Linked DNA regions of Homo sapiens: region 2 is linked to region 1. The links come from fine-mapping of genetic effects on gene expression. Tissue or cell type: whole blood. Region 1 holds a variant in brackets; the other region holds the start of a gene. All regions are shown on one strand. Distances are from middle to middle.

Region 1 (2,682 bases):
TTGTTTTTGAGATGGAGTTTCATTCTTGTTGCCCAGGCTGGAGTGTGATGGTGCAGTCTCAGCTCACTGCAACCTCTGCCTCCTGGGTTCAAGCGATTCTCCTGCCTCAGCCTCCCTAGTAGCTGGGATTACAGGCGCCCACCACCACGCTCGGCTAATTTTTGTATTTTTGGTAGAGATGGGGTTTCACCATGTTGGTCAGGCTGGTCTCGAACTCCTGACCTCAAGTGATCCGCCCACCTCGGCCTCCCAAAGTGTTGGGATTACAGGTGTGAGCCACCGTGCCCGGTCCTTATTTCTGTATTTTTAGTAGAGATGGGGTTTCACCACGTTGGCCAGGCTGATCTTGAACTCCTGGCCTCAAGTGATCCACCCGCCTCGGTCTCCCAAAGTTCTGGGATTACAGGCATGAGCCAACATGCTGGCCTAATTTTTGTATTTTTAGTAGATATGAGGTTTTACTGTGTTGGTCAGGCTGGTCTGGAACAGCTGACCTCAAGCGATCTGCTCACATTGACCTCCCAAAGTGCTGGGATTACAGGTGTGAGCCACCATGCCTGGCCATTTCTCTTTTCTTGAGACAAGGTCTCACTCTGTTACCCAAGCTGGAGTGCGGTGGTGCAATCATGGCTCACCGCAGCCTTGACCTCCTGGGCACAATCTATCCTCCCATCTCAGTCTCCCTAGTAGCTGGAACTATAGGTGTGTGCCACCACACTTGGCTACATTTTTACTTTTGTAGAGATGGGGTCTTGCTATGTTGCCCAGGTGGGTTTCTCTCCTATTGCTTACTCCCAGGCTCCACAGGGGCATGGGTACTGAGAGTGGCATTTCTGGATAGACGTGATCCCAGCTCCTCTACTCAATAGCTGCTGACCTTGAGCTGCGGCTTAAACTTCTCTGCGCCTCAGTTTCTCCATCTTTACAATGGGAACCTCAACATTCCTCATCTCATGGGATACGTGTAAGGGAGAATGCATAGGACCCGTGTCTCTCAGCTGCCCCTGATGACTCTTGAAGAAACACCTCTTGACTCTGACAGGCCTTTGAAGGTGGAAGGTTTCTGCAGCCTGACATCCAGGCAGAATGGATGATGTGACTCCCCGTGAGTGGCCTCTGCTAGTGGCAAACCCTATACTTCCTGTATTCAAAAGTGGCAGAGGGGCTGGGCTCTGTGGCTCAGCCCTGTAATCCCATCACTTTGGGAAGCTGAGGTGGGAGGATCACTTGAGTCCAGGAGTTTGAGGCCAGCCTGGGCAACATAGGGAGACCCCAGTCTCTATAGTATTTTTTTTTTTTTCCAAGACAGAGTCTCCCTCTGTCACCCAGTCTGGAGTGCAGTGGTGTGATTGTGGTTCCCTGCAACTTCCATCTCTGGGGTTCAAGTGATTCTCCTGCCTCAGCCTCCTGAGTAGCTGGGACTACAGGCGCCCAC[C/G]ACCACCCCCGGCTAATTTCTTTTTTTTTTGACATGGAGTCTCGCTCTGTCGCCCAGGCTGGAGTGCAGTGGCGCAATCTTGGCTCACTGCAAGCTCCGCCTTTTGGGTTCATGCCATTCTCCTGCCTCAGCCTCTCAAGTAGCTGGGACTACAGGCGTCCGCCACCATGGCCAGCTAATTTGTGTGTGTGTGTGTATTTAGTAGAGATGAGGTTTCACCGCATTAGCCAGGATGGTCTCAATCTCCTGACCTCGTGATCTGCCCGCCTCAGCCTCCCACAAGTGCTGGGATTACAGGCGTGAGCCACGGCGCCCAGCCTAATTTCTTCCTTTCTTCCTTTCTTTCTTCCTTTCCTTTCTTTCCTTTCCTTTCTTTCATCTCTTTTTTCCTTTTCTTTCCTTTCTTTTCCTTCCTCCCTCCCTCCCTCCCTCTCTCTCTCTCTTTCTTTCTTTCTTTGTATTTTTAGTAGAGACGGTGTTTCACCTTGTTGGCCAGGCTGGTCTTGAACTCCCGACTTCAAGTGATCTGCCCGGTTCAGCCTCCCAAAGTGTTGGGATTACAGGTGTGAGCCACAGCGCCTGGCCATGACCAGCTAATTTTTGTATTTTTAGTAGAGATGGGGTTTTGCCATGTTGGCCAGGCTGGTCTTGAACTCCTAGCCTCAAGCAATCCGACTGCCTTGGCCTCCCAAAGTGCTAGGATTATAGGAGTGAGCCACTGTGCCCTGCCTACTTTTCTTTTAAACAGATAGGGTCTTGCTCTGTTGCCCAGGCTGGATCGTAGTGGTTCAATCACTGCTGATCTTCTTGCCTCAGCCTCTCAAGTAGCTGGGACCACAGGTGTGCACCACCATGCCTGGCTAATTTTTAATTTTTTTGTAGAGCTGGAGTCTCCCTATGTTGCCCAGGCTGGTCTTGAACTCCTGGCCTCAGGTGATCCTCTTGCAAGAGAACATCTTTGACAGATACTGTCCACACCCTAGAACATACCAGAATGCTGACAGAGCTTGTGTTTGCGAGGCCTGTGGAATTAATGGAGACATTTCTACCCTTTTCGACTGGGGCCTTGTGCCTATGGCTTGTTGGGTAGGGGAGATCACCTCCGTTTGTAAAGAACGAAACTGAGTTTGCATTACTGTTCCTTAAGGCAGGTCTGCCCAGCTCCCGGAACACTCTGAAAGCCGCACGCCAAACCCATATCAGGTGCCTGGAGTCTGGAGGTTTTGGCTGCAGCCCCAGGACCAGCC
Region 2 (2,682 bases), 55 kb before region 1:
GGAGGATTGCTGGAGCCCAGGATGTCAAGGCTTCAGTGAGCTATGCTCACATCACTGTGCTCCAGCCTGGGTGACAGAGTGAGACCCTGCCTCCAAAAAAAAGAAAAGAAATAAAAAAAATTTAGCTGGACGCAGTGCCCCACACCTGTAATCCCAGCAGTTTGGGAGGCTGGGGTGAGAGGATTGCTTGAGCCCAGGAGTTCGAGACTAGCCTGGGCAACATAGTGAGACCTCATCTCTGCTAAATATAAACATATTAGCTGGGTGTGGTGGTGCACGCCTGTAGTCCCAGCTACTCAGGAGGCTGAGGCAAGAGGATCACTTGAGTCCAGGAGATTGAGGTTGCAGTGAGCTGTGATAGCAATTGCACTCCATCCAGCCCAGGATACACATGGAGACCCTGTCTCTTAAGGAAAAAAAAAAAATCTATCGGCCGGGTGCAGTGGCTCACGCTTGTAATCCCAACAATTTGGGAGGCCAAGGCAGGCGTATCACTTGAGGTCAGGAGTTTGAGACCAGCCTGGCCAACATGGTGAAACCCCATCTCTACTAAAAATACAAAAATGAGCCGGTTATGATGGCACATGCCTGTAATCCCAGCTACTCGGGAGGCTGAGGCAGGAGAATCACTCCAACCCAGGAGGCAGAGGTTGCAGTGAGCCGAGATTGCACCACTGCACTCCAGCCTGGGAGACGGAGCGAGACTCTGTCTCATAAGAAAAGAGAGCATTGGTCCTGTGATCGTCCCCCTCTCTTGGATGAGGAAACTCAGGCTCAGAGAGGTGAGGGGGCTTGCTCAGGGTCCCCAGGGCGAGTGTCCTGCCCACAGCCTTACCCGGTCACCCTGGCACTGGCGGAAGCTGGCATTGATGCGGTCCAGGTCGCGGCGAGCATTCAGCCACATCTGCATGATGGCATCCTTGGCGCGGGTGGTGAAGTTGAGCTCCTTGGTCAAGTTGGACTGGGAGGCCGTGAGCCCTAGGAGCTGACTGTATAGGCCCTCGGCTCGGCGCTCGGTGGCCTGCAGGTTGGACTCTGTGCTCACGTGCACGTTGCCATAGACCATGAAGAGCACGAGCCCCAGGATGATGAGGAATTGGATGAGGGAGACGAAGAGGAAGAAGTAGCGCAGGTAATACCAGCAGCCCCGAGAGCTGCCCCCCGCCCGAGCGTAGGACCCTCCGTGCTCCATGGCCAGACCCATTTGCTCGATCCCGCCGTCCGGTGCACCGTCCCTGCTCACCACCAGGCCTGCTCTGGCCCCCGCCTCGCAGGGGGGAGTGCTTATATTACTCCTCTTAATACTTCCTCTGCCTGGCTCCTTCCTGGCCCGGAGGAAACGGGGGCTGCGGGTTATCACAACACTCCCACTCTGGCTGTGAGAAGGCGGGGGTGGGGCTGGGGGCCCAGAGCCAGGGCACCGGCTGGACCCCTCTGATTAATGCTGGGTGGGGCGCTGGCTGGCTGGTCAGGCATTCCTGGCCTCTTCGAGCCTCGCGTTCGCCTTTACTTGCTGGCGGGTGCTGTTCTCAGTACCTGCTGTGATTAGGTCGCTGAATCATGCCAGGTCTGTTGCTGTCTCCCTTGTGTGGCGGAGGAAACTGAGGCACAGGGAGGAGAAGGGGTTGCCTCGGGGTCTCACGCTGTTAGTTCAGCGAACTTGACTTACCTCAAGACAGGCTGGCTACAGACGTGCACCCACTTCACCAGGGCGGTGCTGATTAAGTGCCACAAAACGTGGGAAATGTGCCAGGCACGGTGGCTCACGCCTATAATCCCAGCACTTTGGGAGGCTGAGGCGGACGGATCACCTGAGGTCAGAAGTTTGAGACCAACCCGGTCACCGTGGTGAAACCCCCCGTCTCTACTAAAAATACAAAACTTAGCCAGGTGTGGTGGTGCTCGCCTGTAATTCCAGCTACCCAGGAGGCTGAGGCAGGAGAATCGCTTGAACCCAGGAGTCGGAGGTTGCGGTGAGCAGAGATCGTGCCATTGCACTCCAGCCTGGGGTATAGAGCAAGACTCTGTTTCAAAAAAAAAAAAAAACAGAAAAAGTGTGAAACTCTTAGCTAGCCTAGGGATGGAGAAGCAGTAGGTGATTAGTAATTGCATAGGAGGGCGTCACGGAGGGCTGAGCCATGGATGGCGGTGGCGCTGGCTCCCCAAGCTCTGTCATTGCCCCCAGTGCCCTGTTCACTTAGATGCTCAGTAAATGCTCCAGGAAACTGCAGCACAAGGAATAATGAACTTGGAGCGGGGAAGAGCTGGCTTTGTCCCGGGAGAGCTCGGGCAAGAGGCCTCGCATGTCTGTGCCTCCCTTTTCCCCTTTGTGAGACGGGGTATACCCAGTGCCTCGTCACTCTGTGGCTGTTGTTATGATTAGGATCATTTCCTGCTGGAGGCACTGCTGGGGGCTCCGTGAGATGGTGAATGACAAGTGGTGGATACGTGGGACTGAGATTCCTCCCCCGACACTCAAAACCCCATGGGCGGCCGGGCATAGTGGCTCACACCTGTAATCTCAGCACTTTGTGAGGCTGAGGCAGGCGGATCACCTGAGGTCAGGAGTGCGAGACCAGCCTGGCCAATATGGTGAAACCCCATCTCCACTAAAAATACAAAAATTAGCCGTGTGTGGTGGCGAGCACCTGTAATCCCAGCTGCTTGGGAAGCTGAGGCAGG

Evidence for each region. PIP is the estimated chance that this variant, and not a neighbour inherited with it, causes the effect.
Region 2: it holds the start of PLVAP, and the variant in region 1 is fine-mapped to the expression of PLVAP in whole blood (TOPMed, PIP above 0.99).

The regions. Positions count from the first base shown.
Region 1 is chr19:17,430,818-17,433,499 of GRCh38, forward strand. No RefSeq gene overlaps it. Among named protein-coding and RNA genes, the nearest start is that of MVB12A, 12 kb to the left of the region's middle. The variant C/G (reference allele first, on the strand shown) is at 1,436.
Region 2 is chr19:17,376,085-17,378,766 of GRCh38, forward strand. PLVAP (plasmalemma vesicle associated protein) reads right to left here and starts at 1,258. Exons shown (of 6, transcript NM_031310.3): 1 at 836-1,258. The coding sequence starts at 1,204.